Homo sapiens: one gene and its partner. The protein of the gene in region 1 interacts with the protein of each later gene in a pairwise test. Each region holds a gene or a part of one and is shown on either strand. Other genes may lie near its edges.

Region 1 (7,036 bases):
AAAGGAGTTCGTTTCCTAGGGAGGAAGACAGAGGCTGCAAGGACTGAGGGTTGGGGGTGGGATGAGCAGGTGGTGTAATTGGACAGTTGACCAGGAATGTGTGTCTGGTGGTCAGCCCATTTCCAGAACGGTCTTCAGGAGAGTTTTTCTGCATTGCAGTGCTTGTTTACCCTCAGGGTGAGTCAAAGTCCAGGATCCTGTGGGGAGGGGAGCAGCTTAACTAAAATTTGGTTAAATCATTTACCGCTGGGCGCAGTGGCTCACGCCTGTAATCCCAGCACTTTGAGAGGCCCAGGCAGGCGGATCATCTGAGGTCAGGAGTTTGAGACCAGCCTGGCCAACATGGCGAAACCCTGTCTCTACTAAAAATAGCCAGGCGTGGTGGCAGGTGCCTGTAATGCCAGCTACTTGGGAGGCTGAGGCAGGAGAATCACTTGAACCTGGGAGGCAGAGGTTGGAGTGAGCCAAGATTGCACCACTGCACTCCAGCCTGGGCAACAGAGTGAGACTCTATCTCAAAAAAAAAAAAAAATCATTTAGCAAGCATTTAATTTCGGTTGATAAATTGACAGTTTAATCATTTCAGAGGAAAAGAATGAGAATTTGGGGGACTGTGTTTGGGTTGTCCTAGGAAAAGGAGGGGTCGTCTGAGCGTTCTGGAAATCCTATGGGGAAGGGTGATTCTGTGCAGTCAGCCATTCCCCAGAACACAAAATGTGGGGGTTTTGTTTAACCTTCCTGTTGTCCAGTATCTCAGTTCAACATTGCCAAGATGATGGTGCCTACCACAAAGGGTGTTCTAGGGTCAATTGTGTTCTTATTTGTATAGAACTCAGCCCATAATTTGTACCTCATTAAGCATTAGGCAGATAAGTACATTTAGAAGTTCCCTGCATCATGAGAAAACCTCTTTCGTCTAACCCACATCCTTCAGGCTGGAGTTAATTCCTCTTCCTTCAATGCTCTGATTTCTGACACTGGAGATGGATATAGGTGGGTTTTGTTTTCTTTTGTTGAGACAGGGTCTCATTCTGACAGGGTCACTCAGGTTAGACTGCAATGGTACAAACATGGCTCACTGCAGCCTCACCCTCCTGGGCTCAAGTGATCCTCCTGCCCAGCCTCCCATGTAGCTGAGCCACAGGCACGCACCACCATGCCCAGCTAATTTTTAAATATTTGGGTAGTGATGAGGTCTCACTATGTTGCCCAGGCTGGTCTCCAACTCTTAGGCTGAAGCCATCCTCCCACCTCAGCCTACCAAAGTGCTGGGATTACAGGCATGAGCCACTGCACCCAGCAGGGATTTTTTTCTTTTTAAACTAATAGATTTTTTTTTTCCGAGCAGTTTTAGAACTCTAGAAAAATGAGTGGAAAGTACAGATATTTCCCATATACACCCCCCTCCACCCTGGTTTCCCCTGTTATTAACAACTAGCATTAGTGTGGTACATATGTTATCACTGATGAGCCAATATTGATACATTATTATGAACTAAAGCCCATAGTTTACATCGGGTTTGCTCTTTGTGTCGTAACTCCTGTGGGTTTTGACAAATGCATAATGTCATGTGTCCGTCATGATAGTGTCACACAGAATGCTCTCGCCACTTGGTTTAGGTGGTTATATTAGACAGTTGAGATTGTGAACAACTGGTGAAAGAGACCAGGGCTGTCCCACTAAACAGCCCTGGTATTCTACTTACGCTTCCTCCCCAAACTCTAGCAATCACTGATCTTCTACTGTTTTCATAAGTCTTGCTTTTCCAAAATGTTATATACGTGGAATTATATAATATGTGATGCTTTCAGATTGGTGTTCTATATGGTTTTTTTTTGAGACGGAGTCTCACTTTATTGCCCAGGCTGGAGTGCAGTTGTGCAATCTTGGCTCACTGCAACCTCTGCCTCCTGGTTCAAACAATTATCCTGCCTCAGCCTCCTGAGTAGCTAGGATTAGAGGCCTGCGTCACTGCGCCTGTCTAATTTTTGTGTTTTTCTTTTAGTAGACACAAGGTTTCACCATGTTGGCCAGGCCGGTCTCGAACTCCTGACCTCAAGTGATCCATCCACCATAGCCTCCCAAAGTGCTGGGATTATAAGCGTGAGCCACCACGCTCGGCCTGTACATGTTTTTTTTTAACTGTCTAGATGATGCCAATGTGCATCCAAGATGGGATCAGTGTCTCAGATCTTTGCCACTCTAAGCATCAGCAGGAAATTCTTAGAAGTGCCAAATTGCAGGCCCCAACCCAGACCTATTGAATCAGAATATGGATTTTAACAATATCCCTAGGCAACTCACATACACATCAAAGTTTGAGAAGCACTGACTAGGACCACCAAGAAACGGTCTCTCCATGACATGGCATCAGTCTGCCTGCATAGTTCAGAAGGAGCCATTAAAAAAAAAAAAAAGGTTGGACTCGGTGGCTCATGCCTGTAATCCCAGTGCTTTGGGAGGCTGAGGTGGGAGAATCATTTGAGACCAGGAGTTCAAGACCAGCCTGTGCAACATAGTGAGGCCCTGACTCTAAAAGGAGAAAGCGAAGAAATACACACTCATAAATGGAAACTTACTATGGAAAGTGTTCTTTGCCTTATCACATATTACCATATATATATATAACATATATATGTTATATATGTTATATATGTATGTTATATATAAATACATATATATGTTATATGTACATATATGTTATATATGTACGTTTTATATATATTTATATATGTATGTTATATATAAATATATGTTAGAAAACTAGATTATAAACTAGATTATATATATATATCTTGGACATCTTTCCATGCCAGCTTGTGGAGAATTCCTTCATTCTTTTTGCCAGCTACAGAGCATGCCAATAGAAGTACTGGCCACAGTGTCCTGCTTGCCCAATGATGACTTTCAGGCTTTGCACTAATGAGAGAGAAAATCTGTGAAATGGGCTTGCTGGTGCAAAGTATACAATCTTTTCTAAAAATTTTTATCATTATTATTGTTTTTATTTTTTACTGAAGAGCTGGGGAGAGAAGAAAGGAAAAAAAGAAAAAAATTTCAGTGAAGGATGATGCAAAACTGTCCATCAAAGAGACTGTAGCAATTTACATTCTCACTTATTTCCCCATACCCCTGCCAACACTGAGTAATAACACACTTTAAACGTATTTGTCAGTGTGATATCCAAAAGTGATATTTTGTTGTTTTAATTTTTATAGTATTAACGATTAGTGGGGATGAATATTATTCCAATGCCATGTATATCTATATATTTTGCTGTGGGCTACATATTAGTATCCCCTGCCTACTATTTTTATTGGGTAGATAGGCTTTTAAAAATTGACTTTTGGCTGGGTGCGGTGGCTCATGCCTGCAATCTCAGCACTTTGGGAAGCTGAGGAGTGTGGATCACTTGAGGCCAGGAGTTCAAGATCAGCCTGGCCAGCATGGTGAAACCCCATCTCTACAAAAATACAAAAATTTGCTGGGTGTGGTGGTACGTGCCTGTAATCCCAGCTACTCGGGAGGCTGAGGCAGGAGAATTGCTTGAACCCGGGAGGCAGAGGTTGCGGTGAGCAGAGATTGCGCCACTGCACTCCAGCCTGAGAGACAGAGCAAGACTCCGTCTCAAAAAAAAAAAAAAAAGGACTTTTAAGAGCTCTTTATACTTTTAGAAAATTAGTCTCTTTTCTGTAATATATGTTGAAAATATTTTCCTAGTTTCTTCATGTGTCTTTTGACCTTGTTCCCTGTTCATGGTGATTTTTGCTGTGCTTTAAATGTTGTTGCATGTATCTATTTTTTAGTTTATAGTTTTTAGGAAGCAGCTACTTTTCAAACTCTTGTTATCCAAGGATTATTAGGTGTACAGGATCCCTGGGTAAGAATCTTTGTGAGATATGCTTCATATACAGAGGAAGGATTACAAGTGACTGAAAAACCCAACTCAAATGGACTTACACACAAGGAATTTATTGGCTTGTGCAACTGAAAAGTCTGAGCCTGGAAGGATCCTGGACTTCAAATGGGTCATCAGGATGCAGTCTCTCTTAGCCTTTCTTCATGCCAACTTTACTTGCAAGCAGACCCTTCAACATAGTATCTCCCCAGCCCTCAGCTTACGTCATTCTTACTACCCACAGTTCCTACAGAAACTTCTCTTTCCCAGTTGTTCTAGCAAAAGTCCCAGGGTTGCTTCACTGAAGCAATTTCAGTTAAGAACTCATCCCTGGGCCAATCCCTGTAGTGAAATATGTTGACTAGCTAGGCCTTGGGTCATGATCCAGGCCCTGGAGCAAGGCCAGGGGTCGGTCAACTGTACGGAAATTCATAGATTGGGGGTTCCCCAAAGGAAAACCCTGGCCCCGATACCCAGGGAGAGAAAACAGATAGAGGAAAAGTCCAAACAATAATGCCCTCAGCAGAGAGACAGGTGGATAGTAGGTTCAGATCTTCCAGCCAGCTGGTAATGTTGTCCTTCTCACTCGCAGAACCCCAGGCTGGAGAAGCCCGTGCTACTCTCCGAATTTCCTACCAAGATCCCACGAGGTGAACTGGACATGCCTGTTGAGAATGGCCTCCGGGCTCCGGTCAGTGCCTACCAGTATGCGCTGGCCAACGGGGATGTCTGGAAGGTGCATGAGGTGCCTGACTACAGCATGGCCTATGGCAACCCTGGCGTGGCCGACGCCACCCCGCCCTGGAGCAGCTACAAGGAACAGAGCCCTCAGACGCTTCTGGAGCTGAAGCGGCAGCGGGCTGCAGCCAAGCTGCTCAGCCACCCCTTCCTTAGCACACACCTGGGCAGCAGCATGGCCAGGACGGGCGAGAGTAGCAGTGAAGGCAAGGCCCCCTTGATCGGAGGCAGAACTTCACCGTACAGCAGCAATGGGACCTCGGTATATTACACGGTCACCAGCGGAGATCCCCCACTCTTAAAGTTCAAGGCCCCCATAGAGGAGATGGAGGAGAAGGTGCATGGCTGTTGCCGTATCTCCTAGTCTCCGTGTGATGGAGGAGGGAGATGCCTGGGGAGGGGCTCCTGGAATCCAGGCCAGCCCAACAGCCCTGGCTGGGGAGGTGTCAGGGCAGCTGGGGAGAGGTGGGCTCTGCTTTTCAGAGGAACTCAGACCCCAGCCCTCAGCTGGCTGCCCATAGCATCCCATGTCCCACGTCCCGTGGTTCTGCTTCCTGCTGCATCGTCTGCCATCTGACACAAGGCCTGTCGTGGCCTCCTGGTTCACTCTGCTGTCTGATCTTGGGAGGGTGGGCTTGAGATCCCAGCTCTATTCTTGGTATAAAGGCTTCTCCGGATCAGTACATGCATGTCACATTAACACACACACACACACACATATACACACACACACAAGCTCGATCAGTGTGTGTAGGAATGACATACCTGGGCTCAGGGGAAGCAAGGGGGCTTAGAATTTGTGGGGTATTCCCAAAAGGATGGAAGTTAAGACTCAGAGTCTCATTACCACTGCCAATGTGGTTTTAGCAGGGGAGGGGACCTGCTAAGCTGAGACCCATAGTCCTGCTCAGAGTTATCCCAAAGTCTGAGCCACCAGCCACACCTGACAGGGGTGAGAAGTCCTCGCTGTGTTCAGAGGGAGCCAGGAATCTACATGGGTAGATGAGATAGACACAGACCTGCTCCCCGCAGCCTTGTTGAGAGCCACACTTCTGCCCATGCCAGGAGCCAGCTGTGTGACCATCCAGGGGTGGAGGGGGAAAACCAGGCAATTTCGTTCCTGGAATCAACCAAATCATGTTTTCCTCTTGGATGGAAGTGTCAAAGGCAGAAGGGTGTGGGAGGGGGACAAGGTCAGTATTTACCAAAGTGTATCTGATTTTAAAAATTCCTTTAGTCTGTAAAACTCCTAGAGGGAGGGAGGTAACTGAATTCACTTCTTTTTGTGGATCGTATCAAGGTCACTGGGTTTTACTGGCTGGTGCTGGGAAAATGAAGCTAAGTGAGGAGCTTCCATTGGAATGCTTTTCCAGGGAGAGAGGCCAGTTAATTTAAAAAAAACAGTCGCTAGTTAACAGCGACAGAGCCCAGCACCCTGGGGTCTTTGTGAATATCCAGACTGTTTCAGCCCAGCCCATCTCAGCCAACCCTCCTTAGACTGAGCTGTCAGAGCAAGCAATTAGGGGCCAGCCTGCCTCCACCTCCCACCCCCTTCCACCTCCATCAGTCATGTGTGCAGAGTCAGTGCTCGGGATCCCGGGCCCAGCTTTTGCCTTTTTGGGGATGCTTGGTGAGACAGATTTGCCAGTCAGCCCTTTTGAGTTCCCGCCTCACCCAGGGGCTCCCAGCCTGCACTTGCAGGAGTGGTGATGCCCCAAGTCTGCGAATCCAGGGTGCACGTGGTCAATATCCCCTCCTGCATTCAGGAGAGCCATGGTAGGGCTAGAGTTGGGTCTTGCCCAGCCCTGCAGTTTCATAGTCCCAGCCTTCCTGGTGCTGGGGAGGGAGGACTGTGAATGGCTGTTCTCCCCTCACTGCTGAGTCTCCCAGGACCCCCTTTGGAGATGCCCATGGCATGGGCACTGCCCACAGGCTCAGCCAGAACCTCTTGGTGTACCCGATAAGCTGCAGGTTATCCCTTGCTCTGTGCGCCTTTTATTTGTCCTTAAACTACCTCCTTAGAGCTCTGAAGGGGTCTCCTAGTTCCAGATTTTAATTTGGGGAACAGATCTGGGTTCTTTTTAACCCTCTTCTTTCTCAGTCTATGAGAAACTTGCCCTGAGGGGCACCTGGGCTAGGGGCTTGGGACTGGAAGACCATCCCCGCCTTGTGCCACAACTTTGGTCATGGGATCTGCTCTTTGTCATTCTTAGCCCCCTACTGTGGCCCCCATAGCCCCATAACCCAGAGAGGGAGCTGGACTTCAGGGAGCCTGAGTGATGCTTTCCCAGGAGCAGGGCAGCTGGCTGGACCAGAAAGTAGAGGGCCCATGGGAGTGACTGCACCCTTGGTGGCTGCTGGAAGGGGAGAGGTTCTCAGCATCAGGCCACCTCCACCCC
Region 2 (7,036 bases), on another chromosome or scaffold:
TTCCTAACAATCTCCTTAGTATGTACTTACGTAGGCTTTTGTTTTTTTGTCATCTTGTTGAATGCTGTGCCTGTACTTGAAAGGCACACGTGTGCTATCGCACTCCCTCCACCAGTTGGCACACTGGAATGTGAAGAAGAGGATTCTAGCATGATAGGCACTAGAAACCAAAAGCATGTTGCTGCTAGTCATGTGTTGAGTTGAGCACTCTTTCTGAATTGTCAGACTTTATTTTAGAAGCATTACACTTTACCTGTAGTAAAAATATATCGAAATAGAAATATATCAAGATTGTCACTATTTGCATTTCACTAAGACTACAGTCATGGTGAGATTTAGGACTGAGGCTAAACGTTACCAGCCACATGATTGGGAGGGCCATTAAAGTTCTCAGAAGGACACTGACTCTCAAGACTTTTCTAATACTTTGTTCTCTTAAAACTCTGTTGTCTCAGCCCCACACTGTTGACTCTGTTTTTTTGTTTTGTTTTGTTTTGTTTTGTTTTGAGAAGTCTCACTCTTGTCTCCCAGGCTGGAGTACAATGGCACGATCTCGGCTCACTGCAAGCTTCACCTCCCTGGTTCAACTGATTCTCCTGCCTCAGCCTCCCTAGTAGCTGGGATTATAGGCGCCTGCCACCACACCTGGCTGATTTTTGTATTTTTAGTAGAGACAGGGTTTCACCATGTTGGCCAAGCTGGTCTATAACTCCTAACCTTAGGCAATCCACCTGCCTCAGCCTCCCAAAGTGCTGGGGATTACAGGCGTGAGCCACTGCCCCCAGCCAGAAATGGTTGGTTGGTTTGTTTGTTTTGTTTTGTTTGAGACAGAGTCTCGTGAGCCACTGCTCCAGCCAGAAATGAGTTTGTTTGGTTTGGTTTTTTTGAGACTGCAGCCTCCGCCTCCCGGGTTCAAGTGACTCTGCCTCAGCCTCCCGAGTAGCTGGGATTACAGGTGCATGCCACCACTCCTGGGTAATTTTTGTATTTTTAGTAGAGACTAGGTTTCGCCATGTTGGCCAGGCTGGTCTCGAACTTCTGGCCTATAGTGATCCGCCCACCACAGCCTCCCAAAGTTCTGAGATTACAGGCGTGAGAAGCCGTGCCCTACCTAAGACAGAAATGTTTTTAACAAGAGATTTGGAACACAGTTCCTGATTTCCAACATGTATGCTTCAAGACATGGCACGCAGTTTGTGAGCATGGTGTTCCCAGCATTGCAGAGGGGTGTGATCAGTTGTATAATCAGTTCATTTTATTATATGCTCGACAAGGCCATGCTTGAGGCTTTAAATAAAACAAAAAACAAATACCACCCTGTTTATGAGGTTATGAGAACTGTCCTGAGATGATAGCTCTGCTAATGTTTAACCTAAATCCTGCTTGCTACTGTTTAAATCAGTGCCTTTAGTTCAGTTTATGATTGCAAACTGCATTGATAAAGTTTTCAATTGCCATGTACAATAGGTATTCAAATGAGAAAGAATCTCCAGTTTCATGCAAAGAAGATAGCTAAGGGATGAGGGGCCTTTGTTGACTAGAATCAATGTATTCTGAGTACAGGGGGTAGTAATTAATTTACTCTGTTGCCTCATGGGAAAGTTTCAGATGATGGTGTACTTATGGTCTAATTGAAAACGGATGTTAAAAATGTTATTTGCTTTTTAAAAATTATCTTTTAGGCTGGGCACAGTGGCTCACACCTGTAATCCCAGCACTTTGGGAGGCCGAGGTGGGTGGATCACTTGAGGTCAGGAGTTTGAGACCAGCCTGGCCAACGTGGCTAAACCTCATCTCTACTAAAAATACAAAAATTAGCCGGGCATGGTGGCATGTACCTGTAATCCCAGCTACTCGGGAGGCTGAGGCAGAGAGTCACTTAAACCCGGGAGGCAGAGGTTGCAGTGAGCCAAGATCACTCCACTGCACTGCAGCCTGTTCGATAAAGCAAGACGCTGTCTTGAAAAAAAAAAAATTAATCTCATTTATTAAAAACAAAATTGAATGCTTTTTCTCTAGTGCTACACTTCTGGATTAAGCGGTGCTAAGTAGCAAACAGGCTGCATTTAAAGTCTTTTAAATTGTCAGTGGTCTAGTTATTTTTCTTCCAAAAAGCTTGGAGCTCTCTTCTGTGTGTGGTTTTAAAGAAAACAAATCCCACTGGGGGGTATTTTAAGTCTGCCTTTAAAAGAGGGACTTGCTTGATTTGTACCCTGTGATATTCTTTTAGCTAGAAAATTCAGAAGAACATTCACAAACTAAAATTAATTTTTATCTTTTCTGTTCTTCACATGTACATATAATCGTATAAAAAACATTTTATATGACTGATTTTTTTTTTTTTTTACTTTGGCCGTTTCAGGTAACTGGGGAAGAAGCTAAACAAGAATCATTGGAGACTTCTAATCTTGTGCTTTCGGGTATTGGAAGTACACAAACTAATGGACCTTCTGTTCCTAGTGAAGAAGAAATTGTTCAGCCACTGGATAGCACAAGAGTGGCTTCTTACAGTGGCACTGTTACTCAAGCCACATTCACCAGGACTTACGATGGGCCTGGCAGTCAGCCAGTGATATGTCAGAGCTCTGTGTACGGCACCCTTGAAAACAAAGTGGATATTCTTGATGCAGCAGTGCAAACAAAAACAGGTACTTTACAGGACCTTATCCAACATGGCAGCCCCATAAACAATGAATGTCACCCTTCCTTGGAAAGAAAGGATGATAATATGGGGTGTGCAGTGATTAACCCGGAACCAATTACTCTCACCTTTGAAAAAAATGCACATGTACCAATACAGACAGAAGGTGTAAATACTGCTGATGAACGTACAACCTTTAAGAAGGAGTTGATTAAGCAAGTATCACCTGCTGCAAGCCTTAGACATCCTGTATCCACCTCGGAAAATGCACGAACACAAGGCCTGAGGGACATTCCCTCTCTAGTAGTTGCAGGACAGAAGGGCACTAAGTACCTTTGTGCCTCGTCAGTAGGTGGAGAGACACTTGATAAAGCAGTGTGTTCATTACAGAAGGAGACGCCCCTTCCAGTCTCTCTACCATCTGATAAAACAATGGTCATGGAGGCACTATCATTAGCTAAAAGTTCTAGTCATCTATCACCCAGTGAAGAAGTGAGATGCACTCAGGATTTCCTTTCACAGACTCAGAGTCTCCTCGGCCTATCTTCAGAAGGGCTTCTAGAACTGACACAGGTTGAAGTGGACTCATCATCAGCCTCTACCACCTTGGGAAGGCAGTGTTCACTTAACTGCATTTCGTCAGGATGCCACACATCAGGTGACTCTTTAGAACTAAGGAAGAATCACAAGAATGGTCCAAACACTGAAAATATGAATTTGGAAGCGTTTGATTCAGTATTTATCAAACAAACAAGCCTGTCTGTGAGTAGAGAGGTCAGCCTAGAGTTATCAGAGGAAGATTCTGACATTGACTTAGCTCTAACAATATCACCACCTACAAGTCCCAGAGAAGAAATGCCAGCTGGTGAAATAGAGCAATTTGAGGAGGCCCCATTCTCAAATTTAGAACTTCAGGATGTAGCTGAGGAAATAGGTGAACCGGAAGAGGTGGCTCTCACAGAAAGCAGAGAAGTGAGTTCTGCTGACAATGTGTCAGTATATCCCTCAGTGTCAGAAGAACCAGTAGAAAATAAGGAGAGAAAGGGGGATAATTTACAACCAGTTACTTTAATACTTTCTAAAGAAAATTGCACCCTTGAGATTGCAGAGGAAATTAATGTGACCTCTGATTTTCCCTTTGATTCTGTAATTGAAGAAGTATCACCAGCGTCTAGTCCTGAACCTCCAGTACCAGTTAAAGAGACACGACCATATCAGGCTGTGACTCCATGCATTTTAAAACTTCATGGTACACAGTGTGAGAAGAGCAACCAAATCTCCCAATGTGAGTCAGAAGACTTAGGCATAACAGAAAAAGAAAATGTTTTTGTTGGTCCTACCCATCCAGTGGGGCAAGATAACTTTACCCAGGTACAACAAATGCAGGTCTCTGCCGAAATGCCTCTAATATTAACTGATCATCCAGGAAGAACAGGTAGACCAACCCTTCCTGGTAAAGTAACTGAGGAAATTGTCTCAAGTGAGCATGATGAGGGTTTATCTTTCTCAGGAAAGGTGCAGTGCTATGGTAGGGAGTTAAACCAGCCTGCCTCAGCTGCCAAATGCACAGGTGACTTCAGTCCTTCTCCTGAAAAACTGGTAAAATCAGGAAATCCATTGCAGCCAGTTAGTATAGAGAATAGAAATTTGGACTTAAAACATCTTGTCTTGGAGTCCAGTGAACCTCCATTTGGTCCTAGAAATGTTATTGAAAATAAGTCTTTGTCTGACACATTGGTTTCCACAACTGCACCAAGTGGTATAGTGAATGTGTCAGTAAAACAGCAGACTAGCCCTAAAAGCAGTCAGAACCATCTCTTTCCCGGTGATTTGAAAACAGATGAAGGCATTTATCTGCAGGTGAAGTCCTTGACAGCTGCCTCGGTTGATGGAGCTTATTCTACACAGGGATGCATGTGCTCAGTGGTCCCCACGCTTTGTTCTTCCTCAGACAATGCTACATTAACCCATTATGTAAGACCAATAAATGCAGAGCCAGTGTTTCAAGCACAGGAAATACCAGCAGGCAGAATGGCCAGTTTGCTTAAGAATGGTGAGCCTGAAGCTGAGTTACATAAAGAAACCACAGGTCCAGGCACTGCTGGCCCTCAGTCCAACACCACATCTTCTCTAAAAGGTGAACGCAAAGCCATCCACACGCTGCAAGATGTGTCAACATGTGAAACAAAGGAGCTATTGAATGTCGGGGTTTCCTCCCTTTGTGCTGGTCCCTACCAAAATACAGCAGACACCAAGGAAAACCTCAGTAAAGAGCCTTTGGCCTCCTTTGTTTCAGAATCCTTTGATACTTCTGTTTGTGGAATAGCCACAGAGCACGTAGAAATTGAGAACAGTGGGGAGGGGCTCAGGGCTGAGGCTGGTTCTGAAACCCTAGGCAGAGATGGAGAGGTCGGTGTGAATTCCGACATGCACTATGAACTCTCTGGAGATTCTGATCTAGACCTGCTTGGTGATTGTAGAAATCCCAGACTGGATTTGGAGGATTCTTATACTTTAAGAGGTAGTTACACCAGGAAAAAAGATGTTCCCACAGATGGCTATGAGTCGTCGTTGAACTTCCACAACAACAACCAAGAGGACTGGGGCTGCTCTAGCTGGGTTCCAGGCATGGAGACGAGCCTCCCTCCCGGGCACTGGACTGCTGCGGTAAAGAAAGAAGAGAAGTGTGTGCCGCCTTACGTCCAAATCCGAGATCTCCACGGGATCCTCAGGACTTACGCCAACTTCTCTATAACAAAAGAACTCAAAGATACCATGAGAACTTCACACGGCCTGAGGAGGCACCCGAGTTTCAGTGCAAACTGTGGCCTGCCCAGCTCCTGGACAAGCACTTGGCAGGTGGCAGACGACCTCACCCAGAACACTTTAGACCTGGAGTATCTGCGTTTTGCACATAAACTAAAACAGACCATAAAGAATGGGGATTCTCAGCATTCTGCCTCCTCTGCCAATGTCTTTCCAAAGGAGTCACCAACCCAGATCTCCATTGGTGCTTTCCCTTCGACAAAAATCTCTGAGGCCCCATTTCTGCATCCTGCACCTAGGAGCAGAAGCCCCCTTCTGGTAACAGTTGTGGAGTCAGATCCCAGACCACAGGGGCAGCCCAGGAGAGGCTACACAGCCAGCAGTCTGGACAGCTCTTCCTCTTGGAGAGAGAGATGTAGTCATAATAGAGATCTTAGAAATTCTCAAAGAAATCACACTGTTTCATTCCACCTCAACAAACTGAAATACAACAGTACTGTGAAGGAATCTCGGAATGATATTTCACTTATTCTCAATGAGTATGCTGAATTCAACAAGGTGATGAAGAATAGCAACCAATTCATTTTCCAAGACAAAGAGCTAAATGATGTTTCTGGAGAAGCCACTGCTCAAGAGATGTATCTGCCTTTCCCAGGACGGTCAGCCTCCTATGAAGACATAATCATAGACGTGTGCACCAATTTGCACGTCAAACTAAGAAGTGTTGTGAAAGAGGCTTGTAAAAGTACCTTCCTGTTCTACCTTGTCGAAACAGAAGACAAATCATTCTTTGTAAGAACAAAGGTAAAGTGCCAGCCACGTCTTACGTATTATTTTAATTGCTGATTTTAGTTTTAGAAATAATAAATTTAGCATATTAGCCATCAAAAAGAAATCATGGTATGACATAGTATTTAAATTTCACAGCTTAGTCTTTATCTGCATACTAAATGTTTTCCTGCAGGATCTGCCATTTGTACTATATTTGAAAATTAGTATTATGTTCCAGAATTAGGGCAATGACTAATTTTTTTTCACAAAAAGTTACCAGTGTAGACATGCCCATACTTCAAGTGTAAATACAAACACATTCCGATGTTAAAATACAGATTTTTTGAAAAGTGGTTGTAGATTGTCCGTTAGTGTGGGTGGTCAAGTAGGACCTCTTTTGGTTTTGGATATATTTTTAATTTGAATTTGAATGTTAGGATAACTGATGTTACGGTGAGTACATGGAGTACATAGTCCTTAAATTTAAGTAATGGAACCATGGTGAAATTCTGGCATGGGCGGAGCCTGTCTTGATTGAACCTGTCTTGATTCACCATTAACTTCATTGTTTTATCCTCCCAGAATTTATTTCTCTTCTATTTCGGGCATAGACAGTATTTTTAAAAATTTAATTGTTTTTAATTTCAAATTTACATAAAGGTTGCAGAAATAGTACCCTTTACCCAGATACCCCAATATTAACATTTCTGAACCATTTGCAAATGTGTTGCACACACAGTGTCCCATTACCTCTTGATACTTAAATGTGTATTACCTGAGTTCAAGGATCCTCATCTTTTTAACCACAGAACAACCCTGTGCATCAGGAAGTTCATATAATATTAATTAAAGTGACCA

What was found.
Region 2: the proteins of PPP1R16B (region 1) and TASOR2 interact in binary tests that used the Homo sapiens proteins (3 or more experiments, as listed by UniProt).

What each region holds. Positions count from the first base shown.
Region 1 is NC_000020.11:38,913,666-38,920,701, forward strand, and holds part of PPP1R16B (protein phosphatase 1 regulatory inhibitor subunit 16B isoform 1 precursor), read left to right. Parts: intron 1-4,491; coding exon 4,492-5,001; 3' UTR 5,002-7,036. UniProt on the Homo sapiens protein: Regulator of protein phosphatase 1 (PP1) that acts as a positive regulator of pulmonary endothelial cell (EC) barrier function. Involved in the regulation of the PI3K/AKT signaling pathway, angiogenesis and endothelial cell proliferation.
Region 2 is NC_000010.11:5,743,817-5,750,852, forward strand, and holds part of TASOR2 (protein TASOR 2), read left to right. Parts: intron 1-2,362; coding exon 2,363-6,211; intron 6,212-7,036.